Homo sapiens: one gene and its partners. Changing the gene in region 2 together with the main gene of any one other region gives a genetic interaction. Each region holds a gene or a part of one and is shown on either strand. Other genes may lie near its edges. The genes, in order: LLGL1, NF1, PTEN, DMAC1, SYT12, CIP2A and TYMS.

Region 1 (4,273 bases), about 13 Mb from region 2:
AGCTCAGCGTGGGCCAGCCCAGATTTTCCAGTCCCAGGGCAGGCAGGCTGGGCGGGTGGAGCCCTGGGGTTTGGTAGAGCTCAGTTCCAGGCCAAAAGGCAGATCAGGGCAGCACCTTGAACCAAGGTCCAGGGAGGTTTCATTCCAAACCACCTTGGGCAAGGAGGAACTACCTGGTCCCACCAGGGGCCAGGCCTGAGTCTCCTGGCACCTCTGCACCCACCAGGCCCAGGATGGGCTCTCCCCCAACAGCAAGGGGCCCACTCACCCACATAAGCACGCACACCTACCCCGTCAGCAGCAGCCCTCGCTGTGACGGCTCCTGGGCCAGGTTTCGGCCCCCAGTGATGGGCCAGCTCTGGGAGGGGGTGGCAGAGATGTATGCACAAGGTTAGGACGAACATCTTCTCCCTCTCACCCCGAGTATGGCACATTCTGACCTCCGGGCTTAGAACTGAAACTCTCCCCCTCCTCAAGACTCCACCCTGTAAGACCCCCCTGATCGCCGCACACACCAAGGCACTGGAGACAGGCTGGGGGCTCTGCTGCTCGCCAGCGCTCACAATGCGGGCCCACAGCTTGGCGGGGACACTGGCCACGTGGGCCGAGCAAGTGATTGCAGAGGAGTGCAGCGGGGCCAGGTATGGGGCAGGCACAGCTGGCCAGCCAGGAGTCTGCAGGTCCAGCACCACCAGCTCCTCTTCCAGCAGCACAGCCAGGGCCTGGGGGTCATCAAATTCTGTGGGACGGAGGGAGTATGGGGTGAGCACAGCCATAGGTGGCAGAGGGCACCAGGTGGGGCTGGGAAAGGGTAGGGTACGGCAGGGCACGCACCATCCTCGGGCCGTGTGCTGTGCACTGTGAAGAAGTCGATGATGCGGGAAGTGAAGTCCAGCGTCACCAATGTCTCGGCTCGAAGCACACTTACACAGTGGCGGTCACCATAGCTGGCACGGGGCATGCCACCGCTGAAGATGATAAAGTGGCCCCTATGTGCAGAGGGAGGTGTGCGAGCCATGAACCACTTGGGTCCAGAGCACATACTGCACAACCTAGGGAGAGCCCACCCTTCCAGCCCCCTAGCCAGACCCAACTCACATCGGACACCCACTCCCTCGACCTACCCAGATTCACAGTTCCGCCACAGAATCTTGTTAATGGCCTTGCAGGGAAAGGGGCCTGAGGGGTGGGACAGCGTCAGACCAGACTCACTGGTGGTTCTTAGCAATTCTGCCATTCCTGCTCTGCCCTCCACTGCTCTCTACCTTACAGCTGCCTCCTGCCTCCCCGGGAAGTCGGCGGGAGACACACTGCCCCCAGACCACCCCCTCGGGGAAGTCCCTCCTCAGCCAGTTTGGCTTGGCTCAGTGGTGCCCCCTCCCATCACCACCCTCTGGCTAAGGTGTCCCCAGCACTCACCGTAAGGTGTGGTGGCTACCGTGGGCTGCAGCGTTGGGAAGCTGCCGGCATCCACAGACCAGACAGCATAGCTGCCATCGCTGTGTGAGCTGACCACAGTGCTGCTATCACGCCCCCAGCATAGGCTCTCCAGCTGCTGCGGGCAGGCAGGGGCAGGCAGGCAGGCAGGCATGAGCCATGGTGGGCATGCACAAGGGGCCCAGGCTGAGGGGACACAGGCCTCACCTACATACCTGGTTCCCCAGGAAGATGTGGTCCACACACTGCGAGGCCTGGTTCCAGATGACCAGCAGGCCCCGGCTGTAGCCAATGAGAATCTTTGTGGGGTCCCGCAGGTGTCCCTGGAGTGACTCCACGGGGCCCAGTGCCTTCCCACAGCGGTAGTCGTCTGGCACGCTGTGGAGGAAGGCAGGTGAGCCAGCAGAACTTCCCGGGCACACAGTGGGTGCTGGGAAGCCCACCGGCCTCTTACCTGCGCAGAACCTCGCCTGGGGCAAGCGTCTGCCCCTCGAGCAGGGTCAGGGTGGTAACATCCAGGAAGAAGACACTGCTGCCCTCAGTGCCCAGGGCTGCTATGTCGCTGGCAGCCACCAGCAGGACCACTGTGACTCGGGTAAGGCTGAGCGGAGCACTGCAGGGAACAAGGGGAAGGGAGTGAGGGTACAAGCCCATCCACCTGCTCAGGTGGGGTGTGAGGGGCTGGGCCACTGCTGATAACTCATCACTGGCCCCACAGCACTCACCAGGGCCTACTTACAGAGCCACCCCAGGAAGACATGCATCATCATCAGCCCGCTCAATTATTCATCAGGATGTCAGCAGGGAGATGGATAAAAATAGGGTCCCTAGGTCTTGCAGACTGGGCTCCCAGCTCCTCCCACCCACCAGGAGAGGACAGCAGGAACCAGGGCACTGCCCAAGCCAGGACCAGGAGCTCCCCGCTGAGCCCCTCCTAGGAATCCCGCTGCCAGCGCTCAGACATCTCCTGACTTCGCAGGAGGGCCCCAGATACCCCCATCTGCAGAAGCTGGGAGGCATCAGGAATCCATCCCTGGGTTGGTACTCCCCTTTTCCAGCTATTTCAGGCAGGGCTGGGGAGAGAGATGCCCCACACTCTCACTCAGCTGGGGCATGCTGCCAGCGCCTTACCAAGCACAGCCCATGGGACCCTCCTTGCCCTCAACCCTGCCTATGCACAGAAAGGCCTGTCTCCCACCCACAACTGAAGAGGCCAGGGGACCCTTCCTGTTACTAACTGGCTTAGGCCCTGCCCCAAACCCCTAGACACCCCCATCATTGCAGTAAGTGTAGTGCCAGGCCTCAGGTCCTAGAAGTTTGGCATATAATGCATGTACCTCCTGCTGCTCACAATGTTAATTACCTGCTCACGTCGGACTCAACCCAAACCTCCCATTTAACCTGAAAAGTTCAGAGTATACCTCAGTAAAGCAGGGTCCAACAGCTGCAGCCTGGGACCCAGGCCCAGCTCAAGGCATCCCGCCCTGAACCGCTGCCCATCTCCATGCTGCCTTTGCACAGCAGGTTCCCACAGCCTCCCCCAGATCCTCCCTGCCCGGTGGCTGGCCCCAGCCAAGTTCTCCAGTACCTGGCACCATCAAAGCCGGGCCGGCTGGGCAGCTGGAAACTGAGTGCTTCTTCCAGGTGGGCACAGCCATTATGGTGGACAATCTCCCAGAGATGCAGACTGCTGTCATCAAGCAGGGACAGGAGGCGGCCCTGGTGTGTGAGCAGAGATGAAAACTAGGCTGGCCTAGGGGGATGAGTAGATATGGGGGCCACAGGGAGCTGGCTAGTGGGAAGCAGAGGCTCACCTGGCCGGTCAAGAAGTGCATCTGTGTGACAGTGGCTGCATCCCGGTGCAGGCCTGTGAACTCCACGCCAGGTGCACCATAGCTGAGGGTGGCAGGTCAAGGTGGAAATAGGCATAGACCAGCAAACCACAGTGAGGAAGACACCCAAGGCTCCTCCTTGACCCGGACTATTCCAGTGGGCCCCGGCATGGGCCTGACCATCCAGGAGTCCTCCCTGAAGAACGGAGGCCCCCTCCCTAAAGCTCCCACTCTGCACCCCTACAGTATCCCCAAGATCAGTGTGCAGGCTCCACTCACTCCTGCAAGTCAGGTGCTGCTATAGGACCTTCACTTCCCGTAAATTGGGCCAGTGACTCCCACTTTACAGGACTGTTGCAGATCAAGTGAGAATAAACACACCCAGCAGGCTTGGCCTCAGCCTGGTGAGAGGATGGGGCTCCGCTCCACTTCAGCTCCGTGTGTCTATGGGTTCTGGGAGCTGCGCCTTGCCGGATGGGATCAGGCAGGCCAGAGGTGCAAGGCCAGGCCTGGACAAGAAAGCCAGGGGGCAGAAGAGTCCAGGCTGCCTTTTCCCACAGCTTCAGGCCAAACTTCAGCCATGGGTAAGAAAACCCACCTCCTCTGGGCACGGTGGCTCGCTCCTGTAATCCCAGCACTTTGGGAGGCCGAGGCAGGTAGATCACAAGGTCAGGAGTTGAGGACCAGCCTGGCCAAGATGGTGAAACCTCGTCTCTACTAAAAACGCAAAAATTAGCCGGGCATGCTGGCAGGCACCTGTAATCCCAGCTATTTGGGAGGCTGAGGCAGAGAACTGCTTGAACCCGGGAGGCAAAGGTTGCAGTGAGCCAAAACTGTGCGACTGCACTCCAGCCTGGGCAACAAAGAGCAAGACTCCATCTCAAAAAAACAAAACAAAACAAAAAAAACCCACCTCCCTCCAAAGCAGGCAGCCAACAACTGCCATCATGAGGGAGGAGAGACTCCAGCCTGCCCATTTCACAGATGAGCACACAGACTTGGAG
Region 2 (3,871 bases):
GTTCACACAGTAGCTTTCTTTAAAGGCTCACTTAATTTTGTGTTCAATAGTATGACAAGATAAGTAATCCTTTCAATTTGAGAGAAATTATTTTCAGTTGACTGCAGAAAACCACAGAACATTTTAGCTACTACAAATTAACTGGTGCAAGACAGTCAAGCATATAAATAAGAAGATGGTGGAAGATGAAATCACTTTTATTTACAATACAAAATAAATGACTGTCAATTTACATCCCGGTGACTTTTAACATGCTTATTAACTCTGATGCCTAGCATCCAAAGGGCACTAGAATCAATATTAGCTCCCGCTACTGGGCTGTTTTGAAGATGAAAATACCGAGGCAGATGCCCCATTTGCAATGCTCCATTTGCAAATATTCTTTTTTTGAGATGGAGTCTTACTCTGTCGCCCAGGCTGGAGTGCAGTGGCACCACCTTGGCTCACTGCAACCTCCTGGGTTCAAGAGATCTTCCCACCTCAGCCTCCCAGGTCGCTGGAGTTACAAACATGTGCCACCCTGGCTAATTTTTGTATTTTTAGTAGAGACAGGGTGTCACCATGTTGGCCAGGCTGGTCTCGAACTCCTAACCTCAAGTGATCCTCCCAACTCGGCCTCCCAGAGTGCTGGAATTACAAACATGCGCCATTGCACCCGGCCAATTTGCAAATATTCTTAACATATAAATAGCCAACAACTAGATATCGCTGACCACCACTGTCCCAAAACAGTTTTAGAAAAACGGCAATGAGAATTAGGACAGAGGGGTTCTAGTCCCAAAACAGATGTACAAGCATGGGCAAGTTACTTAACTTCTTAGTTCCTTTCTAATTTGCAAAATGGAGGTCTGATTAATAAACTCCATAAGACCTCTTACCTCTAAAATTTTGCTTCTATATTTTTCAGACCCATATCTGTTCCAGGTTCACACTACATCTGGTAGACTGAACTAATAATGTTTAGACCAAGTATCTTTTTACACTTAAAACCATAATCCTGTTCTTTGTACCCACAGTTCAGTTAATTTCACTTCAAGCAAATCTCACTGTATATACACATTCTTTTAAAAACATTCCCCTCTTTTCTCCTAGACCCTTCCCATTTTTATCCAAAGACAAAAGGGACGTAATTTCATACTATTTTATTCTCTCCTCTATTCTCTATGAACTAAAATCCAACCCCAATTAGATCTCCATTTTACAAATTAGAAAGGAACTAAGAAGTAATTTGCCCATGTTCATATATATATACACACACACATGCACACGTGCACACACACACACACACCCCATTAGCACCCCTCCTAACATTTATTAACCTTAATTGGAGTTGGATTTTACATATTTTATGTGTGTACACACACACACACACACACACACACTTTATATATATATATACACATACATTACATATATATGTGTGTATGTAATATATGTATACACACTTTTTTTTGGAGACAGGGTCTTGCTCTGTTGCCCAAGCTGGAGTGCAGTGGCGTGATCTCAGCTCACTGCAACCTCTGCCTCCCAGGCTCAAGCAATCCTCCTACCTCACCTCCCGAGTAGCTGGGATTGTAGGTGCATGCCACCATGCCTAGCTAATTTTTGCCTTTTTTGTAGAGATGGGGTTTTGCAAGTTGCCCAGGCTGTTCTCTAACTCCTGAGCTCAACTGATCCACCTGTCTTGGCCTCCCAAAGTGCTGGGACTACAGGTATGAGCCACCACTCCTGGCCACTAATGGTATATTTTAAAGTAAGATTAGACAGAATAAAAAAACTAGTAAAATTAAGTACCCAAAAGTTTCCTTTAGACTCTCCAACTTCCTTATCTACTATGAATTATACGTATTTTTCATTAAGTGGCATTATTAAGTAAAACTAAGATTACTTTTAGATTATTTCTTCACGTGTGAAATGGGGGGCAGAGAATGCTAACCTTTACCTTAAGGTTATGAAAATTAAAAATAAATGTATAGTGTTTAGCATACGGCCTGGCATGGTAGCTATTAATATTATTACCATGTATTGTTTATGCTCATTCTGTAAGGATGATCATGTATTATTTATCCTTATTCTGTAATTCTACTAGTATTAGGCCAGTACTGTTTTTTTTTTGTTTTTTTTTTTTTGCTATTTTTATGTAAAAAATATGCATTCAAGTTTACATAGTTCTTTATGAGCTGGTAAGGAAATATACTCACAATAAGTTACATTATACAAATTCCTACTTAAGTTATGGACTTCTTGTGATTTTAAAAGAATAGCAACAAGAAAAGATGGAAGAGTACTAAATTTGAGTAATCTAGGAACCTCAAGGCAAAGTTTGCTTACCTTGTCATTGAATATACGGAGACTATCTAAAGTATGCAGGTTTTGTTCAAGAAGTGCGGTACCTGCTGAATACAAGTTGACCTCATCAAGCTGCAGCACAGCCACAGCTACCCAAAAGAGGGCTTTGTGCAGAGGCGAGTCCTGGCAAAGAAGATATGTTTGAGGCTAGTAAGATGAATCATGACATAGTCTCTTTCAAAACACACTGCAGTTAAAAATAAAGCAGCTTATCTTCCTAAATTACCCATGTTTTCTCTTTTGGGGAAGATAAAGATATGAGTAAGCTCTTCACTTTTCCATATGTATAACTAAAGACACTGTTAGCTGGACTGAGAACGTTACTTAGCACCTCCTTTGACTTCTCCCTGTTCTTTGATTTCTAAATCCAGTCACCAAGGTTTGTTGATTCTTCTAGAGTAGTCTCTTTTGTATCTTTTGTCATTTCTTTCTTATTGCTAATGACATTACCACATGCCAACCTTCTTTATTATAAAGGTGGATTCTTTTTACTTCAGTTTCTCCCTACTCCAATCCACTGTGCACACTACCACCAGGAGCTAAGTCCTGCTTTCATCGTATGACTTGTCTGCTTAAAAACTGTACATTTCCAAACTCTTTTGAACAATGCTGAATGTGAGATGAGGTCTATCCAGTCCTCACAACTTTCCCTCTCTCGATTCCTTTGAAAAGCTTCTCCATTACAACTAGAATGTTCTACCCACCTTCCCTCCATTGTCCTGGCATTCTTGTGCAGCTCTCTCCCTTTCTCTCTACCTACATTAACTCCTATGTTTCCCTTTAACTTTATTTTAAACTGTCTTTTCAACTTCTTGTCACTCTTAACCAGTATGGTAATCTCTTGCTGCTCTGAATTAAAAGTATTTATTACTGGCAATCTTTACTTAGCACTGTGATATTAGGGAAAATACATGGACTTTAGAGTCAAATAGTATCACATTAGAATCATGGTTCTTTTATTAGGTATGTGACTTTGGGCAAGTTATTTAGCCCTTCTGAGCTCATTTTCACTTAGAAGATGGGGACCAGAGAACCATTTTGTATAATACAAAATTAGAATGCTTGTAGACAAACCAGGAATATAACAGGTATTATTTCTCTGTTATTTCTCCCAAGTCTGGCATACCTTTGTACTCAAATCACAGAATTAAACCACTTTAGAACTGGATGGTAATACCATGCCATTATCGAATCTTTTTCATTTTATTAATACAAAAACATGATTTCCAGATATCTTAAATATAAAAATGGGATAAGGTCAGACCATCCTAAAACAGTGGCCACTTCATTTTACTCCTTTTAAATATAATCTTCATTTGGCACCCAAACTCTTATGACGATCAAGTATACTTCTCCCAGCTTTAATTTCTCCATAGTAATAATCACTAACATACTACGTATTTTGTTTACTTCATTATCCATTCACTCCCCAACCTCCACACCCACCCCAGAAAGTAAGCTCCATGAAGGCAGTGAGTTTTATGGGCTTTGTTAGTACTCTATCTCTAGCGCCTAAAACAGT
Region 3 (4,273 bases), on a different chromosome or scaffold from region 2:
ATAATGTTTGATAACCATTATCACATGCACCTCACTTTCCACAGCATGTATCACAATTTATAATTGTTAATGTAAATTCTGTTTCCTCTACTGGAGTGTAAACTCTTCAAGGGCAGGGATAGAGGGTGTGTTTTGATCACTAATGTATTCCAAACCCATATATACAGCAGGGACTTGGTATTTGTTGAATAAAAAGTTTAAAACCGAATAGTCAAAATAATTAACCTTTTTAATTTTTTAAAGGAAAAATACTCTCCATAGGAAGGCATTTCTATTTTTTGTCCATCAGTAGCCAAATGGAACTTGATATAAACACTTCCAGTATGCCAACTTTGGTTTAATGCACAACTTTGAAAATAACTCATTAAAACACACATCAAGATGCTACTAACAAATTCATTAATATCCAAGATTCATTACTGTATGTCAAAGGTCATCCAGGATTAACATTTTCATTACAATGAACTGTGAAATTCCAATGAAAAATGTTTGCCTGAATTAAATTATTTAATCTCTCAAATTGGAAGTCTAGCACTCTTGAAAATCAAATTCACACACACACAGACACACACACACACACTTACAAACTGCACATTAGGACATGAGGGCAATTTAATGGAAAAAGAAAATAGAAACTGAAAGGGCATTTGTAAAATGTAGGATATCATTTGGACAACTGGATAGAGTAGGCAGAAAATCCTAAAGGTGTACATAAAAAAATAGCCAGTAAATGATAGGCTACAGAAAACCACACTGAAACATTTGATGAATTTCACTGCAGTAAACAGACTTGGCAAACTGAAACACTAGAACCATGACTACAAGCCTCACTTCATTCCACACAAATAAAATCTCTAACCATTATAAGCACAGATGAGAATCCTCATGCAACAGAGGAAATATAAATTATTTTTAATTTTAAAAAATAAAAAATATAAATTCTTGTTAAACACTTGATTTAAAAATATGCAGCTTTATTTTTAAATGTAGTTATGCTCAAAGATGGCAGTTTACTTATATGTAAAAATGTTTTAAAAATATCAATATATTGGTTTATAAGTTCTATACTGCCCTCAGCTAAATATTTTTCACCAAAATTCTCAAATAACTATCAAAAAGAGTTGCATGTTTTTATAAGCCCACTATAATTACTAAACGCGGTAATTTTCAGAGCTAAAGGTGAATCATTAATGAAATATTTTTTGATGTGATAAAAGTCACATGAGCATTTGAATTTAAAGACAACTGATAAGCCAACAGCAGCCTTTTTTTGGCAGGTGTTAAATTAATTTGCTCTAAATTGAGCAACTGTTTGGGAACTACAAAAACTGAAAAGTTCAAACTATAAGGAAGTAGAAAGGTGATGAAGTTTACTAATACAGTGTTTCACACATTCTATTTAACACAATTCCAAATGCAAATGTTTAAGATGATTTTTGAAGAGAAACATCTACAATGTTAAGCTTGTCTATGCTAAACAAATGTAACTTTAATTTACATGTATCATCCTAATGTCAACAATATTTAGACATTCATGATTAAGCCACTGAATTCGAAAGGATTCTCAATAACTACATGTAATCTGCATCTGTGGCATTAGAAAGTAATCAAATCACTGTCCGTTTTCTGATGCAATGGAACATCCTACAAATTCATGACAGATATACTAAGCTAAAAAGCTTTGAGATCAGGTACAGTATAAATTTCATTTTTAAAGAATATACATGGATATACAGAAGAAAACATGATTGTATAGTCACTAACATATTAACGATGGCTATGTCTCCAGGTGATAGGATTATGAGTGATTATTTTATTGTTGTTGTGATGGGGAAGTAGTCTCAAAATACCTAGCTTAACAACCAGAGTACTACCACCAAAGCAAACTATTTTGTCCTTTCCTGTCTTCACATTACAAACTTTTTAAAGCTACCAACCAATATGAATTTGTCTGACTGGCTACCCACATTCTGATATACATATTAGAAGGAAGATCTTTTGGAAGATGGAAAAACAGCAAGATTATGGTCATAAAAGAATAATATGCTCTCAAAAATAAGCAACAATCATTAGGCTTTCTATAGCCACATACAATTAATTCTATAAGAAAGTTGGCTCCAACATTTCATCTTTAAAAGACTTTTTCCATTATCCTGTTTCCTGGTTTTCAGGTACTGTCCTTACAACAGTTTGGACTGAATATTCTTGTTTCCATTCACAAACATTTCTTTCTGAACTAGCAACAGCACTAATCAATAGCTACACTTAAGCCATTTAAGACTAAGCTTTAGATGTGTGTCTAATTATCTGGCAAAAATAAAAGAACCAAAGAGTTTCATGTTAGCAGCAAATTAACTAGATTTAAGGGTCTTGATTTTTTTCATAAGCCTTTGGAAGCCTGCATATTAAACACTGGTGAGTTTTAAATTCTCAATGGAAATGGTGATGGCATTTACTGAACCAAGCCAGCTCATATTACAACGTACAAAGGACATGATATAAAAACAAAACTAGCACATTTCTATTTTTCAAACATCACCAAAATGTCTTCTTATAAATTAGAATACTTTTAGACTCCAGTATAGTTTTCAACCATACGTATACCCAAGATACCGAAAAATAAAATGTGTGTACACATACACTTCATATTTTACATTATTGCACATTTTTTCATTTACTTTTTAAAAAATTACATGGAGAAAATGTAAACTTGAAATAATAAGTCCCACTGTAACATTGTCTACTTTATTTTTTTAACACTTGTACAAACTACACTTTCTTATTACCTTACTATGCTTTGTTGAAAGGATATGCTTTAGTCTTCAAGCTTTTAAGAATATTAGAAACAACATGATTAAATTCAAGTACAAAAAGTCCTTTAGACTATTCCGAAATATCAATTTTTATATGGCACAAGTCATGATGAGTAAATGAAGCTTTCCATATGCTGATGGCAGAGTACAGAATAATAGACAAAAGCCACAAAATTGAAATCTAAAGTATCAAATCCATTCTGGGGAATTATCTTCAAACATCTGTCATAATAAAAATATGCACAATTTTCTAAGAATCTTGGACTTTTTCAGGACTAGAACGCTATTTAATGTGCTTATACAATTTATGAAGTGATGACTAAAGCCCTAAAAATAAGTGTTTTTCCTTAATTAAACATGAGTAGACAGATACTCTACTCTCAGGCCATGTTTTTTTTTTTTTTTTTTTTTAAACAGTAGGCTTTGAAGGACAGCAGGAAAAAAAAAAACTGAAAACTTTGTATTCACATTTGGCTGCCCATTAATTAAAACTTCAATGGACTTAAGCAATTTGAATTATAAACTCTCATTTAATAAAACACCCACACAATGACAAGAATGAGACTTTAATCAGTTTTAAGTGGAGTTTATAACACTAAGAGATAAAGGGTTGTTAACAAACACAATAACAAATGGACATCTGATTGGGATGAGGCATTATCCTGTACACATCATATTGGTATTTTTGTGTATCCTCAGTGCATAGCATTTACACACAGAGCCACTGCTGCACAGCACAAGAGTATCTGAAGAGGCTGAATCAGAGTAAGGCTGTTTAACAGACTGAAATTTTTTAGTATATATATTCTATATGAAAACAGGTTGAACTTTTGAACTGGCAGGTAGAAGGCAACTCTGCCAAATACTACAGTTAAAGCCCCCACTTTAGTGCACAGTTCCACCCCTTCCATCTGCATGCATGACACATTAACAGTATTTAAAGGTAAACGAGGCACTTTGTGGCAACCACAGCCATCGTTATGAACATATTGCACAAAATTTCTAGAACTAAACATTAAACTTGTACCCTACTTTTATTTTTTAAAGCTGAAACATTTGATGCTGCCGGTAAACTCCACTTAAGTTTATAACCTGTGCCACAGCAAAGAATGGTGATGCTATTTATTCAACTACCCTTTTAAAAGTATGGCAAACATGTTCAAGAGGAGCTACAAAGGACTTGGGATGGTACAGGGCCCAACTGTAAGCTTTCTTAAAAGTGATGCCTTCAAGTAACTTCAGACATGTAAGCTGCTGCACATCCAAAAAGTCTAAGAAAATATTCCAGAAACTCAGAGATTACCTACAGAATGCATTTCAGGCTAATTATGAATACTGCCATAAATAAAGTTTTAATTAGGACTCGAAAACCTTTCAGTCATAGCAATTCTTGTCAAATTCTATGGGGATGGTAACTGAAATAAAGTAAGGAGAGTATGTATAATATATATTTATATATA
Region 4 (4,982 bases), on a different chromosome or scaffold from region 2:
TCAGACTACTCAGCGTGAAGATGAGGATGAAGACCTTTAGGATGATTCACTTCTACCTAACGAATAGTGAATATATTACTTCCTTAATAACATTTTTTTTTTCTCTAGCTTACCTTCTTGTAAGAATACGGAATATAATACATACAACACAAAAAATGTGTTAATCAACTGCTTTATGTTATCAATAAGGCTTCCAGTCAATTGTAAACTAACTACTAATTAAGTTTTTGAGGAGTCAGGTTATATGCAGATTCTCCACTGAGCAAATGTTCAGCGCTCTTAACTCCTGTGTTGTCCAAGGGTCAACTGTATATATATTTAAGAGTTATTATTTACCCAGTAGATCAAGCCAAGACCAAGTTAGGTTTATGTGTTTTTGGTTTAACCAAAGAAAATGTTCAGGGACTAAAGCAGTCCATCAATAGAACAGACTGCCTTTTAAACCAGGGAACAACTTGTCTTTGTAGGTATTTTAGGTATATGAATGACCATATGTATCTGCTTTGGGTCATCCATGGTCCCTTCCAACTTAAAACTTCTCTATTCATGAACATAGCATAACTGAGCTATGGATTTCATATAAATAATATCTTGTTGCGTACTTTAGGTTTGAAATGTTTTCTTTTTCAGTTGCATAGATATATGTAGCACCATCCCCGCTATGAACTCTGATGTAGAAAATACAAGATTCTAAAGTCATCTGTGAGGCTAAATAGACTTAGGCACTTCCACATAATGCTGCAAAAAGCAACAGCCGTAAAGGTACTACCTGCTCAACATGTCATTCCAAACAAATACACTATGATTAGCAGCTGAATTTAACAGTATCTTTCCGCTTTGAAAAACACTTTATATACCTTTACAAAGAAGCCATAGTATCTCAGGGTAGAAAAACCCAATAGGTAGAAAACATGGCCTTCTCTTAGAAATGAACTATGTAATTTTGAGTACTTATCTCAAAATCATCACAGAAACATATCTAGTGCTTGTGGAAAAAGAATCAAAAGATCTTTTTTTTTTTTAGCTAAAGGTTTTGAATTTTTCTTGTGACATTTAAGTCTTTTATTGTATGCTGATTTTTATGATTATCTAACTGTTTCATAATGGTTATTCTTGCCTCCATGAAAGGGAAGACTAGAACAAAAAACTGACAAGAACAAGTTCTAGCTCCATCACGGACTTACTGAATGACCCTAGGCAAATCATGTGGGCTCTTTCTTGTGTTTTAAGTTTTACCTCCAATGAAGTAACTACCTCAGACTAGCTGTGAAGCTCTCATAAGGTGATGGATTTGAAAATGCCTTGCAAAGTATCAGCAATTCATACACAGAAAATTTCACGTACTTCTATATATTGCATGATGCCCACCCAGGGTTAGGTTAACAGTTGTTGATCCAATTATGAAAGAAATAAAAAGAACTCTTTAAAATAATGAAGTAAAATAGCTAATTTTCCCGTTGGTTTACCATATGCTGTATTTAAAAGTTTTAAAAATTATACTAACTATATAACTAAACATATTTATGTTTATTATATATAATATGACATGCAATTATATAAGACATACTATTATGTTTATATATAATGCTTAATTAAGCAATTATATTTAAATATAAGTTATACTTTCCTTCCCCAGATAAGACAAAGAACCTGTTTACTTCTCTGAGGGATTTATTGGTTCCTGTGAAATCTGTGAAGGCCACAAACACTCCATAGCCAGAGAATGACAACATACGATTTTCTTCTCAGTCTTGTAGTATCCACAGTAGTGATGTCTGTCCATGTACAAGTGTCTGTCCAGAACACCCATTAAATTCCATGCCTGCTGTGTGTGTCACGGGGAAAGGGACAGAGACAGAAGACAGATTCACTGGTGGTACTTTCAAACAACGCGGTAGGCCTTCCCTTTGGGGTCTGCCATGACAACGATACCCCAGGTGGCAATGCCTAGAAAAAAAACAACAATACCTTACCTTTATGCTGCATTTAAATTTACCAAGTGTTTCACATATACGCCATCTTATTTAACCCTCACAACACTTCTGGAGGATATATTACCATTGTATCTTTCTTATAAGGCAAGTGAAGCACAGAAAAAGAAAAAAAAATCAGGAAAAAAAAGAATATCCTGTAGGAGAATTTACCTATACAGGATCAAGAAGGTAAGACAGTTAGAAACCTAAAATTCTATTCACTGACAATCGGTTTGAAAGCTAAAAAAATCATGACGTTTGATTGGATGACATCTTGACGATCACAGAACGGGGCTGTGGGCCACATTACCCAGGTGTACCAAGTAGGTGAGCTTAGAATCCACGTCTAAAGATCTGGGATTCAAGGCAAATTTCTTAAATTAAGGTCAAGGGCCCTCGCTCAGGCTTTCTCCAGGACCTGGAGAAAAAGTATGGGCTTTGAGATCTGATATACCTGGGATCAAGTGACTGTCATTTCCTGACCATGAACACAATACTCCTCGTTGCCTCGGTTTGCTCCACAGTAAATACTATAATCATACCTACTTCTAACAGCTATTCTGAGAATTAAAAGGGCTGAGTCTAATAAGGGTTCTCAAGAAATACTAACTTAAAATTAAAAAAAAAAAAAGAAAGGCGTTCCAACAACTTCCTCTCCCACCTTGTTTGAGGTGCCCCCACCACCTGACCAGCGGCAGCACCCCGCCTCCCCGCCTCCCCGCCCACGTGGCTGCTCCGTTTCCTTCCTCTACCCCGCAGATACCCAACCCGCCCAAGTGCTGTGCCTTGATTCTCACTGAGGCCGATGACCATCTGCGTAATGGTCCATGGACTCGGGGGGTATCCCATCTTCATGGGCTTCCGTGCCACCCAGTACACGTACCCGCCCGCCCCCATCAGCCCCAACCCAGAAAGCACGCGACAGCTCCAGCAGGTCTTCAACAGGCGGTGTTCTGCTGGGGAGGTCGGCGCTCCGGGTGTAGCTGGGGGCGCAGGTTTGGCGGGCGCGGCGGCGGTACCGGGAGGCGCAGTGATATAGGACTCAAAAGGCTGGGACAACCGAGACCCCATGCTCTGGAACTCGGCCTCAACCTTGGGCGTCTTTGGTTCAAACTGGCGTAAACGACGCACCGGAAGGCAGAGCGCCGGAAAGCAGAATGCCGGGACGCTAGCGCAGTGCGCGGAGGAATCTTAAGGGCTGCTGGGAAATGAAGTTCTCCTCCGCTTCAGAGGCGGAAAAGGTGAAAGAATGCTGCTCTTTCCTGCTGGATTTCTCTGGCAGCAACAACCTTGTATGCGCTGGAGGACAATTCCAGCCCTCCTCCCCGCCGCCCCCCCCGCCCCCACTGTTTTAGAAATTCTGTAATCGCTACTCACTAAATGAATCACCTTTCAGTCTCCTTAAAGAAGTCTGGCTCTCTTAAGTTTCCTGCCTCACATGAACTGCGAGACCTTGGGCATGTCATATCTCCTATCCAGAGGCCTGTGAATCAAGGAGTTGGGTTTTATATGTGCATAATCATGTGCTAGATACAGACATACCATAGCGATTGCAGGTTTGGTTCTAGACCAACACAATACAGCAAATATCTCGATAAAGCAAGCCATGCAATTTTTTTTTGGTTTCTCCGTGCATATAAAAGTTGTTTATACTGTAGTCTATTAAATGTGCAGTAGCATTGTGTCTAAAAAACAGTATATATATCTTAATTTAAAAAACATCTTGCCCAAAAAATGGTAACGATTACCTTAGCCTTCAGTAAATCCTAATCTTTTTTTTTTTTTTTTTTTTGAGGTGGAGTTTTGCTCTTGTTGCCCAGACTGCCCAGTGCAATGGCACAATCTCGGCTCACTGCAACTTCCGCCTCCCGGGTTCAAGTGATTCTCCTGCCTCAGCCTCTCGAGTAGCTTGGATTACAGATGCCTGCCACCACGCCTGGCTAATTTTTTTGTATTTTTAGTAGAGACGGGGTTTCACCATGTTGGCTAGGCTATTCTCAAACTCCTGACCTCAGGTAATCCACCTGCCTTGGCCTCTCAAAGTGCTGGGATTACAGGCATGAGCCACCGCACCTGGCCACTTCTAATCTTTTTGCTGGTGGAGGGTCTGGCCTTGATGGTGATGGCTGCTGACTGATCAAGGTAGTGGTTGCTGAAGGTTGGGGTAACTGTGCCAATTTCTTAAAATAAGACAATAATGAAATTTTCTGCAAGAATTGACTCTTCCTTTTACGAAAGATTTTTTTGCAACATGCAATGCCGTTTTATAGCATTTTAATAACCACTATATAACGTCTTTCAAAATTGGAGCCCTTTATCCAACATTTTGACAATGTTCATAGCATCTTCACCAGGAGTAGATTCCGTCTCAAAAAACCACTTTCTTCATCCATAGGAAGTAACCCCTCATCTGTTCAAGTTTTATCATGAGATTGTGGCAATTCAGTCACATCATCAGGCTCCACTTCTAATTCTAGTTCTCTTGCTATTTCCACCACATCTGCTGTTACTTCCCTCATCTGAAATCTTGAACCCTTCTTAGTTGTTCATAAAGATTGGAATCAATTTCTTCCAATATCCAGTTAGGGATATTTTGATCTCCTCCCATGAGTCACAGATATTCTTAATGGCATCAGAATGGTGAATCTTTCCCAGAAGGTTTTCAATTTACTTTAACCAGATTCATCAGAGAAATCATTATCTCTGATTGTAAGGCTGCAAGAGCCTTACAAAATGTATCTCTTATATAATAAAACTTGAAAGTCAGAATTACTTCTTTATCTATAGGCTGCAGAATGGATGTTGTGTTAGCAGTTATGAAAATGCTAATCTCTTTGTACATTTCCATTAAAGCTCTTGAGTAACTAGGTACATTGTCAATGAGCAGTAATATTTTGAAAGGAATCTTTTTTCTGAGCAAGAAGTCTCAACAATGAACTTAAAATATTCAGTAAACCATGCTGTAAACAGATGTGCTGTCATCAGGCTTTGTTGTTCAAATTATAAAGC
Region 5 (4,273 bases), on a different chromosome or scaffold from region 2:
CTAAAGTGCAGCTTGGTGTCTGTCTGAAATCATCCCCTCTAAGGCTAGAGGAATGTTTCTCTAGCAGAAGCTCAGTAGGGGTAGAACCTCTGAAGCTTTGGTGGCAAAGCAGCAGACGAGCTGTAAACAGTGGTCGGGATGTTTTTGAAATTTGCCTGCAGCAAGCAGTTTCCTCGGATGTGGCTCAGGTCTTCTTCTCTGCTCTCCTAATGATGATGGGGCTCAGGCTATTGCAGAGGATGATGAGGATGATGGAGTCCCTTCCTGGAAGTGTATGTGTGTGCACGCTCTTCCGAGGTGGACGAGCAGGCAAGTCACTTACCTTGTTCTGGTCCTGTAAATAGAGCCAGCCACTGAAGGGCTGCAGCGGGAGGTCAAGCACAGAAAGCTTCAGCTCCACCACCCCCGTGCTGACGTTGCGCTCATCCTCATCGATGCCAAATACAGAAAACCGCAGGCTCTTCTCCTCCAGGGCTGTGGGATCCAGGGGGATGGAGAACTTCTCATCAAAGAAGATGGAGTAGGCATTTCTCTGGATCTGCAGGAGAAAAGGCCATGGAGGGCGCTAGGGGCCTGAGAGGCCACAGCAGGGAGACAGCACTGGACAGGGAGTCCAGAGGCCCAGGCTAGAGTCCTGGCTCTGTTGTCTTGACACCCTCAATGCCAATCTTTCCTTTGGTGGCTCAGCCTTGAAGGTTTAAAAGCCTCCTGTCCTCTCCTCAGTGGCGGCCAATCTAGTGGCCTGGCGTTTTAAGCTCCCACAATCTGATCCCAACTAATTTCCGTCCTCAGTGCCCGTGGCACCCCAGAACCCTCAAGATGCCCTGGACGAGCTGGTCTCCATCTTTCTTGCATCTGTTCGAGTCTAGCCCTAGGCCAGGCAAGCAGTGGAGTGGGACAGTTGCCTGTGGAGTCACGAGCCACTGACGTCCCAGGTTCCTGCAGAGCCTGGCCCAGGACTGTTTGAACACCGTAGGCTGGATGGGTGGATGGAAGGGAGGACTAGGCGAGGTTGGGCCAACTCGGTTTCCAAGCCCAGTCCTGCCTGGTGGGCACCACTGACCTCCTCCCAGGAAGTTGTGGGCAGGCCCCCTGGGAAGGTGCATTGCGGGCTCTGTCTCTGGGGAATAAGGGGGATGCTTTAGTCACTGCCTGGTGATATTTAAAGAAAGGCGCTCTCATCCCTGGACCCTGCCTGAGGCTGGGGGGCTGCCTAGCCTGGGGGCAGCACCCCCTGGTGGGATTGCCCAGGCTGTTAAGCTGGGAAGCTTGCCTTCCCTGGAATAAATCCCCCAGCGCCACCGGCCACCATGACCACACTCTTCTGTCACTGCCTGGGTGTGGGAAGGCTCCTCGCACAGTGCTCACGTTCCCTACACAATCCCCTGCTCTTGAAGGGCTCCTTGCCCCCAAGTGATAAAGCCCACCTGGCCTCCTGACCTCCTGACCTCGGCATTCAGGCTCTTCATGATCTGGCTCTGCCTCTCCCTCCTTCGGCTAAATTAGCCTCTCAGCTGTCCCCTGCTCATGGGGGCCTGGGCTCCCCAACCAGCCATTCTCTGAGCGTGTGCTTTATGTGCACATGGGTGGAGGAGGATGGAACCCTGGGTTTGAGTCCTGGACCTCCTGCTTCCTTACTGGCGTTGTCTTGGGCAAAGCACTTTCCCGAGCCTCGGTTTCCTCATCTGTAAGATGCCCTAACAATCTGTCCTGTTGGCGTCAGGGGCTAATGAGAGAATCATGGATGCACTGGGCTCTGTGAACCAGGTTCTCAGCACACATCAGGCTGTGGCGGCTGCTGTCTGCCAATGTCTCTCCTCAAGGAATGCGTCCCCAAACCACAGGCAACATGGCTGGGCACGACAGGAGCTCTGCACGGTCCTGAGAGCCAACCTGCTAGGCACTGACCCAGGCTGGGCTAAGAACTTCACATACATTAACCCATCTCTTCCTCAATAACCATGATGCCCATTTGACAGATGGGGAAACGGAGTCATGGGGTACTAAACTGACTTAACCAAGATCATACTGCTAGGAAGAGGTGGAACAAGGATTTGAACCCAGGCAGTCAGGCTCCAGGGTCCTGCTCCTAATCGCCCACTATACTGCCTCTCAGAAGCTGGGCCACCCCAACTTGATGCCCTAAACACGCCCTCCTCGCACTCTGCTCACAGGCTATCCCCACCCTTCAGCCCAGATGTGGCTCTGTTGGCTTGGTTCTGTGAGTTACAGCGATGTGTGGAGGGTAGCCTAAGGGACTGGGCACCTTCCCTGCCCCTCACGCTTTATTCTCCACCCTTCCCCCCTCTGCTCTGGCCCTGAGAGTTGACCTCCATGGGCTGTGTCAACAGGTTCCCTTGGCCTTTGGCTTCTGGTTGGGTCAGCCAGTGGAGGTCACCAGAAGGAAACTGGAGGGGGAGGGAAGTCCCTCTCTGCAGTATTGTTGCGGGATGACCATGTCCCTTGGCCAAAGGGCAGAGCTTCCACCAAGGTAGCCCTCTCCACACAAGGTGGCCCTCTATCCTTTTGGGCCCAGTAACCTCACCTTCCCCTCACCCCTTCAGATCTAGAGTGGGACAGCCCCTCCTGTTACGCCCTTCCAGGGTACCATGCCATCCCTGAGGCTGCCCCACACCCCATCCGCACCACTCTAAATGGTCTTATTATTTTCATTTTTAAAATTTATTTATTTATTTATTATTTTTGAGACGGAGTCTCACTCTGTCGCCCAGGCTGGAGTGCAGTGGCATGATCTCGGCTCATTGCAACCTCCGCCTCCTGAGTTCATGCAATTCTCCTGCCTCAGCCACCTCAATAGCTGGGATTACAGGTGTGCACCACATGCCCTGCTAATTTTTGTATTTTTAGTAGAGACGGGGTTTCACCATATTGGCCAGGCTGGTCTCAAACATCTGACCTCAGGTGATCCACCTGCCTCAGCCTCCAAAGGGCTGGGATTACAGGTGTGAGCCACTGCACCTGGCCCTATTTTTATTTTTTGAGATAGGGTCTCATTCTGTCACCCAGGCTGGAGTGCAGTGGTGCAATCGTGGCTCATTGCAGCCTCAACCTCCTGGGCTCAAGTGATCCTCCCATCTCAGCCTCCCAAGTAGCTGGGACTATAAATTAGCTGGCACTACCACAGCCAGCTAATTTATTTTATTTTATTTTATTTTTTTTGGTAGAGAAGGAGTTTTGCCATGTTGCCTAGGCTGGCCTTGAACTCCTGGTTAGGCTCAAGCAATCCTCCCACCTTGGCCTCCCAAAGTGCTGGGATTACAGGCATGAATCACTGTACCTGGACAGTCCTGTTTTATTTTTATTTATTTATTTATTTTGAGACAGAGTCTCCCTCTGTCGCCCAGGCTGGAGTGCAGTGGCACGATCTCGGCTCACTGCAAGCTCTGCCTCCCAGGTTCACGCCATTCTCCTGCCTCAGCCTCCCGAGTAGCTGGGACTACAGGTGCCCGCCACCACGCCCGGCTAATTTTTTGTATTTTAGTAGAGATGGGGTTTCACCGTGTTAGGCAGGATGGTCTCGATCTCCTGACCTCATGATCTGCCCGCCTCGGCCTCCCAAAGTGCTGAGATTAGAGGCATGAGCCACCACAACCAGCCCCAGTCCTGTTATTAAGCCCTCCCCAAATTAGCCTTCTTAAGCATGTCATCCCTTTTCTGCCGGGACCCCATGTTGACACAGGGCAGATGTGGACAACGACAGTTGCCACATTCTGTATTCACCTGGTGGGACCGCTAAGAACTCCACACAATGGGAGCCTTCAGGTGGAGCCCCCCACCTCCCAGCTCTGTACAGAGCTCCCTCTACAGTCTGAAGCTTCAGCTCTGGGATCAGCATCCATACTTGCACTCTACTGCCTTTCTGGGATCCTGCCGGGCCCCACCGCCATGCCTGCCTGGGAGGCATCTAGTGAGCCCAGAGCACCCTTCTGCCCCGCCCTGAGCCCCACTTACCCGAGAAATGCCCACGATCTGCTCGTCCGGCAGCAGGCTGACGCGCATGAAGCAGGACTCGAAGCTGGCCTCCTCCCGCTCCAGGAGGTCCTTGCCCTGCATCACCGCCACGTTCAGCGTGTGGGAGGCAGTGTCGTACTCCATGCTCACCTCCACCTGGCCCAGTGTGAAGTCCTGCCCAAAGGTGTTGCTCACGGAGGAGATGGAGTTCAGGGAGTCGGCCGACTGGGACTTCCGGAGGGTCCCATAGGGGGCCAGGTCCAACTCCCGGCCCATCAGCTCCAGAGGCCCCAGTTCACTG
Region 6 (4,273 bases), on a different chromosome or scaffold from region 2:
ATAATAAATTCATATGAAATAAATTCTGTATGAATTATCTGCAAAACCTTGTAAGAAAATGATATATTTTGTGCTTTTATTTTAACTTATAGCAGTAGACATTGAAACCAGAGATTGTCTTCAGAATACATATAATCTGAATAGTGTGCTGGCGGGAGTGGTTTGTCGGAGCAGCCACACTGATTCGGTGTTTTTGCAGGTATACAGACCCACACAGTGTATTCCCCTTTCCTTACTGTCAGATCAAAATTGATAGTTTCTGTCATAAACTGCTGACTTACAGTGTATATATGCTATATAATAAATACTACATGATTAGGCACAGTTCATCTCATTAAAAGCTGGTTGCACACATACAATTTAAATGTTTCTAGAGAAGAGAAGCTTATCCATTTCTATCACCACTATTGAAGAAAAACAAATCTACATTATAACTGCTTTGACTTATAAACACAGATGTCTGTGTTTTGAGACATAAGCTATTTATATTAAAATTGTAACGTGAGTTGGCATCTAGTCTCAATCTGTGGAGGAAACGTTCTACAAAAATTAAAGCTGTAGATAGAGTCTATTTAATATAGATTCAAAGCTCTTCATATTTCATTGACTCTAAAATGTCATCAATTGTAAGAAAGAAAAACATCACAAATTAAATTGACATGCAGTTTTAGAGGTGATAAAATGTGAAGAAGGGTATCTTCTAATTGATGGACTACATGTGTGTTTCAAACTGCATTCAAGTTTAAGATGACTAAGTGAACAAGGTTGATAACCATGCTCTGAGACAGAATACGTAGAAATGTGTGAATTGAGAGAAGAGCCCTAAGGTTCTTACATTACTTTACATGTGTTTTTTAAAAAAATTGTTTTAGGAAATGGAAAAGGACATGCTCAGAATGTGCCTGAGAGTCCATTATTTTAAGCAGGCAATGTTTTTATATCTTTATATTTATAACTATTTTCTTATTCTCAGTGCATTCAACTTCTACAGAAGTTAACATATAATGTCAAAATTTTCTATTCTGGTGCCAATATAGATGAATTAATTACGTTCCTGATAGATCACATGTGAGTATGCAATCAAACATAAAACCAAATAGTTTATTTGTTTATTTTTAAATTACAACCATGTGGTAGATTAATTTTTCTTAGATAACATTTTCTAACATATAAACTGAGTGAGACTCCGATTCTTATTTGTTCTGCCCAGATGATTTTAAGGATCAAAAGTTGTAAAAGTATGTGACCTCATTCATTGGTGAAAAAATGTAAAAAGGAAAAAAAAATTGTAAAGCAACTTTAATTTTCATAAGAAAAATTTATGGACTGAATTGATTTGGCCAGAAAAAAATTACTGAAATTGAAAATTGTGTAGTTATTCTTGTAGGAAAATATACTGATGAAACAGCACATGGTCCACGCTGACAGTTACTTCCATGTTTTCATGATGGAATTGAATAGGGTAATTTGGTTTTAAAATGAGATAAATGATCAATACTATTCAAAGCTTCCCTGGCTTCTTATGTTAATTAGTTTTTTTTTTTGCGTGTAAAAGGGAATTGAAATGTATAAACTTAACTATATCATTTTGACTTAGAATAATGTTAATGCTTTTTTTCTTTTACTATTTTTTCTTTAAACAAAACACCAATGTAAAACAACAGTCAATCTTCTGAAGATGAGTTAAAAATGCCTTGTCTAGGATTATTGGCAAATCTTTGTCGGCACAATCTTTCTGTTCAAACGCACATAAAGACATTGGTAAGAAGTTTATTTCTTTTTAATGTTTCTTGTTTTATGGTAGATTCTCTGCTTAAAGAAAATTGTATTTATCTTTTTCTTTAAAACAAATTTGAACAAGGATTCTGTGTCTTATCGGATGACCCATCAAAATTAAGAGTCAGATTGACATACAAATAACTTGAAGCACTTCAGCCTTCGTGTATGTTGTATTGAAGACTGTGTGTTAAGGGTTAATGCAAACACTTATTTCTAAAAGTTTTCCTCAGCATGGCATCCCATTATTTATTACATTGAGTAGTACAAGAATTACTAAATTATTTTGTGCTCTTAGAAGGGAGGCACATCACTGGCAGTCCCATTTATCTCAGTCTTGTGTTTCCACAAAATCAATGGCAACCCCACCAGAAAGATTCATGAGTTAAGTGCTCAGTATGAACCAACAGTACTTGTGATAAATGAAGACACACAAATGAATTTAACTGAATCACTTTTAGAAGTATATTAAATCAGCTGGGCATGGTGGCTCACACCTGTAATCCCAGCACTTTGGAGGCCAAGGCAGGCAGATCACAAGGTCAGGAGATGGAGACCATCTCGGCCAACATGGTGAACCCTGTCTCTACCAAAATACAAAAAATTAGCCAGGCGTGGTGGCACACGCCTGTAGTCCCAGCTACTTGGGAAGCTGAGGCAGGGGAATTGCTTGAACCCGGGAGGTGGAGGTTGGAGTGAGCTGAGATCGCGCCACTGCCCTCCAGCCTGGCAACAGAGTAAGACTCCATCCTTAAAAAAAAAAACAAAGTATATTAAATCAAGCAAGTCACTGATTCTTTAAGGTGCTTGGTGAACAATTTCCCTGCTGTGCTATTCAGCATTACCCGTTCGATTTTAAATTTAATATCTCACTTGTTCAAGTGCTACATTTTTCTGCCCTGGTCTTACTTTGGAGGTGGAGTAACTGTGTGTGTGTGTGTGTGTGTGTGTGTGTGTGTGTGTTTCAATTTCTGAATTGAAAAAAAAGTTCATATGTTCATATTTAGGAAACACTTAAATATAAGGAAGAATAAACATTTGCTCATAGTTTCATGTGTAGAAACTGCTCTTCACCAAGATTGTGGCTATCTATATGACTGTCAGCAATATACGAAACTACCCATCTTGCTCACACATGCAGTGATCTCTTAAATCTAAATGCTAATCAGCAAATATGGCAAAGTTAATTGCTGCTCCACGGTGTGTAACGTAAAACAAATTCTTAAATTTGCTGAATTTTTTTTGCTTCCACCACAATTATGAGAGTTCCTCATTACAGTTCTTTTGTTAACACAAATGCTAACAAATGCTACAGTTCTTTTGTTAACACAAATCCTGCAGTATTTAAGGTAGCTCTTTTGTTTCCACTCTGCATGTGTCCCTTTATTAGAATTGACACCCTGATTTACCATCATTGAATTATTTATTCTAAGGTGACAAAACTTTGGAAATATTTATCTCCAACTCGTTTGCACGCATTTACCAAATTATTTTTTTCTGTAGGTACTCTCTTTATAACAATTTTTGAATTTAAATTTATCTCTGATCTAAATTTCTCCTGTAGAACATTTATCTTTTAAATGCAACAATCATTTAATAGAGTTGATAATGATGTTTAATAAAAGTTTGCCCACTCTGTGCAAGATATACTTTTTAAACCAAAACATAAAATTTATAATTCTAATTTATTTTTTAACTTTTTTTTCCTCAGAGTAATGTGAAATCTTTTTATCGAACTCTTATCACCTTGTTGGCCCATAGTAGTTTAACTGTGGTTGTGTTTGCACTTTCAATATTATCCAGTTTGACATTAAATGAAGAGGTGGGGGAAAAGGTAAATACAATTTTTCAAATTTATTCTGAAGTTTATAGTCTGATATTTTAAAAGTCATTGAGACTTTTTTATTTTTACCTTTTAGGATGGTGTCAACTTAATTTTTTGTCTAATATGCTTTTTCTAATTTGTCCTTAAGCTATTCCATGCTCGAAACATTCATCAGACTTTTCAACTAATATTTAATATTCTCATAAACGGTGATGGCACTCTAACTAGAAAGTATTCAGTTGACCTACTGATGGATCTCCTTAAGAATCCTAAAATTGCTGATTATCTCACCAGGTATGACTCACTTCAGTCAATTTTAGAACTTTTTTATTTTTAAACCAAGATGTGTTGGTTATAAACAGAATTGTCTTCTTAAAATATAATAAACTTGGATTCTACTGATTCACAGTAGACTAAAATGTTTTGATGTGCTTTACTCACACTCTTTTTTCTTTCCTGAACTGAAATGGAAAGTATAACAGGTCATTGTCTATGTGTGTATTTCAGTCTTTGCTTTAGATCAATAGGGTTGTGCCATTCTCCAAAATATAGACATCTTGGCTAATTTATTTTAAAACCAGTTTTAAAACGTAAGTAGCATTACGATTATTTGAAAGAGTATTTTTATTATAGGAACAATAAAAATAAATATTTCTACATAAATTATAAATA
Region 7 (3,986 bases), on a different chromosome or scaffold from region 2:
AGGTGCCTGTGATCCCAGCTACATGGGAGGCTGAGGCAGGAGAATCACTTGAACCTGGGAGGTGGAGGTTGCAGTGAGCCAAGATTGCGCCACTGCACTGCAGCCTGGGCAACGGACAGTGACTCCATGTCAAAAAAAAAAAAATTAATTAATTGCCTCTGGCTTAGACGTAAAAGCATTTCTTGGAGCAGCATAAATGCATAAAATCTGTTTTTGTTCCAGGTGGTTGTTAACAGGACTCATTTTTTTGGTCTTTGATAGGATCCCGGCTACTCAACAGAAATGAAGGAGGAATCTGTAAAGAAACACCAGTATCCAGATGGTGAAGTTTGGAAGAAACTCCTTCCTGCTCAAGAAAATTAAGTGCTCAGCCCCAACAACTTTTTTCTTTCTGAAGTGAAAGGGCTTAAAATTTCTTGGAAATAGTTTTACAAAAATGGATTTAAAAAATCCTACCGATCAAGATGAGTTCAGCTAGAAGTCATACCACCCTCAGGAATCAGCTAAGTAATTATTACTTGATTCTTTTAGCAAATCAATGCACGTTATCCTACTTAATCCTTAAATAAGTTTAGATTTAACTAACCCAAAGTCCAGGAGGATGTTCTTACAAAAATAGCTATATCAAGGGCTGGCACCTAGACATTAAACTGTAATTTGAAAATAAGCAACATGTTGCATAACTTGTTGGAATAATTCCTTGTTCTGTTTAACACTTGTCATAAATTAGCAGAATAAAAATAGTCGTGCAACACCGGGGGTATCTGGTATGCAACGAAGGGAAAAATATTTCACTGATTAACCCCGAAGTGGTTTTGCATCTTTTCCTTGCTTAATCTAAGCATATTATTAGAGAAGTCACACCATGCTGAAGCTAATGAGGGCAAAATGGTAGTCCATAGATTATTTTAAAATAACCCTTTAAGGTTATAAAAGTTTAAAAAAAAAAAAAAAAAACTCTATCCTAAATGGTCATTATATTTTGAGGATAAGATGCAGTTAAAATGAGAAAAATAGGGCAAAATATATTCACTATTATTTCTAAAATATACTCTTTTAAGTAGCATCCAAACCAGAATACAGCACATGTTTACTTAAGGAGAGTTCTTTAATCTATTTTAGGAAGGAACTGAGCAGATAAGTGGCAGTACAGAATGAACAAAGCGTGGACGAATGCAGAACACTTCTTTATTATAGCAACATATAAAACAACTATAACTTTAAAGTTCATAACCACACTCTACATCATGATCGATGGTGTTACTCAGCTCCCTCAGATTTGAGGGAATAGCTTGTGAAATTCTTAAAATATTCTAAAAATATTCCAAAAATAGCTTGTGAAATTCACCAACCTTCTTTATAAGTACGTGGGATTGAAATGCACATACATGTTTTTGCTAAGAGCACATACATTTCATTCTCCTCACTTTGTTCATAACCTCAGCATTGTCAGATACCCTCAGTGAGTTAACTCAAAGCCTTTTATTATGGAAAGAACTGGCACAGTTACATTTGCCAGTGGCAACATCCTTAAAAATTAATAACTGATAGGTCACGGACAGATTTTTGACCTAGTTCCTTTTTCTTTTAGAGCAAAAAGAACTTTTACCTCGGCATCCAGCCCAACCCCTAAAGACTGACAATATCCTTCGAGCTCCTTTGAAAGCACCCTAAACAGCCATTTCCATTTTAATAGTTGGATGCGGATTGTACCCTTCAATCTGAAAGTCTTCAGCTTTGAAGTCATCAATTTTCTCAACTTTTCGAAGAATCCTGAGCTTTGGGAAAGGTCTGGGTTCTCGCTGAAGCTAAAAACAAAATAAGGCCATTATTTTGCCATAATTGTACGACCTGTTGTAATTGCTCCTCATGTCCGTGAAACAAGTACACAGGATGTGATCAACAAAGTTCTATTTTACAGGAGTATGATCCTGTCGATACCTTGCCGTAGGTTATGTAACATGATTGGAGCGCAACCAGCTGTTCTCTTGCACAGATCGAGAGTGAGGGGTATTTTGTGACATTACACAGCATCAGGAGCCTGGTGCCTCATCAGGTGTAAGTTCTTATAACCACTCTTGGCAAATTTATTAAAGACAGGAACACAGTCAATCTGTAACTCATAGTAGCTCTACGTTTACTTGAATTCCACAATCCCTAACCCATCTGTCCCTGGCAGAAAGAAGGAAAGATGACATGCATGGACAGTGAACAGAAAGGGATGAAAGCCAGGATTCCTGGGATGAACAGACAGTGGCAATTAGGATGTGAAGACAGGTCACAACCTATTACTATGTCTAAAAACGACCAGAGCAGAGAGCCAGAGAGAATAAGCCTGAAGTCACCTCCACTCAAAAGCAGCCAAACTCCCTCAAAGGAGTAACTTTTAAAACCTGGATCTAACCTGGAAGGGGCTAAAAAGTGTCTGGTTCTGAGTTTTTTTCCTTAAGGCTCATGAAGCAGATGAACTTACATTTTTATTGCCATTTCATATCAATTGTTGGCTGCTATAACTTAGGGATTTCAACAGACTTTTGAAGTTTGGACCTAAATATTGTACTTAATGTAAAATTAACAAAAAATATTTATGGCCAGGGTGGTGGCTTATGCCTGTAATTCCAGAATTTTCGGAGGCTGAGGCAGGTGGATCACTTGAAGTCAGGAGTTTGAGACTAGCCTGGCCAACATGATGAAACCCCATCTCTACTAATAATACAAAAATTAGCTGGGTGTGGTGGCATGTGCCTGTAATCCCAGCTACCTGGGAGGCTGAGGCAGAAGAATTGCTTGAACCCGGGAGGTGGAGGTTGCAGTGAGCTGAGATCGCACCACGGCACACTCCAGCCTGGCCGACAGAGAAAGACTCCATCTCAAAAAAAAAAGAAAAGGAAAAACATTTGCACTTCAATTCTCCTTCAAGTTAAAATGAGTTAAAATGCCCCCTTTTGGACAATCCCCTGGCTTGAATGTGGCTCTTCCCTCTCTGGTACTGGTGCTTAGTACCTCACAGCACCTGACATGTTAAGTGCCCATGGTTGCTGAGGCAGATGCCTGCCTTGTCCTGCCCACCTGCCCACCACTTCTCCCTAAACTGAAGCCCCACATTTGGAGCAGTCATCTTTATCTTGGACACAGCATTGAGCAGATGCCTGTTCCACAGTCAACCTTTTATCAAGAGAAGGTACCAAACCCAAAAGTATAACATCTAATTCTTACCTGAATTTTCAGTGGCTCGATGTGATTCAGGTAAATATGTGCATCTCCCAAAGTGTGTATAAAGTCACCTGGCTATAAACCCGGGGGAGAAAGCAGAACAGTATGTTAGTTTCAATTCTTTAAAACATCATTTAAAAACATTAGAATATGCAGACACCGCAAGGCTTTTTTTAAAAAAATAATTTAGTGTAGCTTTTCCATTTTTTTGTAGCAACAGCATCTTGTTATGTTGCCCAGGCTGGTATTGAACTCCAGACCTCAAGCAATTGCTCCTGTCTCAGTCTCCCAAAGTGCTGGGATTACAGGCATGAGCCACCATACCCAACCTCAGCATAGCTTTTGAGAAAATCCATAGAAGCTGTATCACAAACAACCTGTATAGATCTGTTAGTGCGTATACCACAGGGCCAGAAAACCTTCCAGAAGAGGAAGGTTTCAAAGTAAAAGCTGGTTCATTTCTTACTTACACATATCAAATTTAAAAGCTAATCAGAGACTAAACTCTGCAATTTGTTTTCCCATATTAAAGAACTGAAGAGCTCAGTGTGGTAGGCTGGCAAGTCACCCTTCCCGAGACAGCCCACCTTCAGGCCCGTGATGTGCGCAATCATGTACGTGAGCAGGGCGTAGCTGGCGATGTTGAAAGGCACACCGAGGCCCATGTCTCCCGATCTCTGGTACAGCTGGCAGGACAGCTCACTGTTCACCACATAGAACTGGCAGAGGGCATGGCATGGAGGCAGCGCCATCAGAGGAAGATCTGAGGAACC

Evidence for each region.
Region 1: changes in NF1 (region 2) and LLGL1 together harm fitness more than expected from each alone (negative genetic interaction), as found in Homo sapiens cells (one large-scale study listed by BioGRID).
Region 3: changes in NF1 (region 2) and PTEN together harm fitness less than expected from each alone (positive genetic interaction), as found in Homo sapiens cells (one large-scale study listed by BioGRID).
Region 4: changes in NF1 (region 2) and DMAC1 together harm fitness more than expected from each alone (negative genetic interaction), as found in Homo sapiens cells (one large-scale study listed by BioGRID).
Region 5: changes in NF1 (region 2) and SYT12 together harm fitness more than expected from each alone (negative genetic interaction), as found in Homo sapiens cells (one large-scale study listed by BioGRID).
Region 6: changes in NF1 (region 2) and CIP2A together harm fitness more than expected from each alone (negative genetic interaction), as found in Homo sapiens cells (one large-scale study listed by BioGRID).
Region 7: changes in NF1 (region 2) and TYMS together harm fitness more than expected from each alone (negative genetic interaction), as found in Homo sapiens cells (one large-scale study listed by BioGRID).

Annotation. Positions count from the first base shown.
Region 1 is NC_000017.11:18,231,555-18,235,827, reverse strand, and holds part of LLGL1 (lethal(2) giant larvae protein homolog 1), read right to left. Parts: intron 3,334-4,273; coding exon 3,252-3,333; intron 3,157-3,251; coding exon 3,026-3,156; intron 2,051-3,025; coding exon 1,892-2,050; intron 1,816-1,891; coding exon 1,653-1,815; intron 1,556-1,652; coding exon 1,420-1,555; intron 1,180-1,419; coding exon 1,125-1,179; intron 990-1,124; coding exon 835-989; intron 740-834; coding exon 516-739; intron 359-515; coding exon 291-358; intron 1-290. UniProt on the Homo sapiens protein: Cortical cytoskeleton protein found in a complex involved in maintaining cell polarity and epithelial integrity. Involved in the regulation of mitotic spindle orientation, proliferation, differentiation and tissue organization of neuroepithelial cells.
Region 2 is NC_000017.11:31,339,106-31,342,976, reverse strand, and holds part of NF1 (neurofibromin), read right to left. Parts: intron 2,473-3,871; coding exon 2,332-2,472; intron 1-2,331. UniProt on the Homo sapiens protein: Stimulates the GTPase activity of Ras. NF1 shows greater affinity for Ras GAP, but lower specific activity. May be a regulator of Ras activity.
Region 3 is NC_000010.11:87,967,866-87,972,138, reverse strand, and holds the end of PTEN (phosphatidylinositol 3,4,5-trisphosphate 3-phosphatase and dual-specificity protein phosphatase PTEN), read right to left. Parts: 3' UTR 209-4,273; downstream 1-208. UniProt on the Homo sapiens protein: Dual-specificity protein phosphatase, dephosphorylating tyrosine-, serine- and threonine-phosphorylated proteins.
Region 4 is NC_000009.12:7,796,691-7,801,672, forward strand, and holds the start of DMAC1 (distal membrane-arm assembly complex protein 1), read right to left. Parts: upstream 3,089-4,982; 5' UTR 3,045-3,088; coding exon 2,771-3,044; coding exon of another isoform or gene 2,759-2,770; intron 1,948-2,758; coding exon 1,883-1,947; coding exon of another isoform or gene 1,746-1,882; 3' UTR 1-1,745. UniProt on the Homo sapiens protein: Required for the assembly of the mitochondrial NADH:ubiquinone oxidoreductase complex (complex I). Involved in the assembly of the distal region of complex I.
Region 5 is NC_000011.10:67,039,903-67,044,175, reverse strand, and holds part of SYT12 (synaptotagmin-12), read right to left. Parts: coding exon 3,973-4,273; intron 539-3,972; coding exon 323-538; intron 1-322. UniProt on the Homo sapiens protein: Synaptic vesicle phosphoprotein that enhances spontaneous neurotransmitter release but does not effect induced neurotransmitter release. Unlike other synaptotagmins, it does not bind Ca(2+) or phospholipids.
Region 6 is NC_000003.12:108,578,903-108,583,175, reverse strand, and holds part of CIP2A (protein CIP2A), read left to right. Parts: intron 1-92; coding exon 93-199; intron 200-973; coding exon 974-1,068; intron 1,069-1,664; coding exon 1,665-1,761; intron 1,762-3,487; coding exon 3,488-3,610; intron 3,611-3,749; coding exon 3,750-3,895; intron 3,896-4,273.
Region 7 is NC_000018.10:670,682-674,667, reverse strand, and holds the end of TYMS (thymidylate synthase), read right to left. Parts: exon of another isoform or gene 3,977-3,986; coding exon 3,801-3,976; exon of another isoform or gene 3,289-3,800; coding exon 3,217-3,288; exon of another isoform or gene 1,809-3,216; coding exon 1,671-1,808; 3' UTR 1,090-1,670; downstream 1-1,089. UniProt on the Homo sapiens protein: Catalyzes the reductive methylation of 2'-deoxyuridine 5'-monophosphate (dUMP) to thymidine 5'-monophosphate (dTMP), using the cosubstrate, 5,10- methylenetetrahydrofolate (CH2H4folate) as a 1-carbon donor and reductant and contributes to the de novo mitochondrial thymidylate biosynthesis pathway.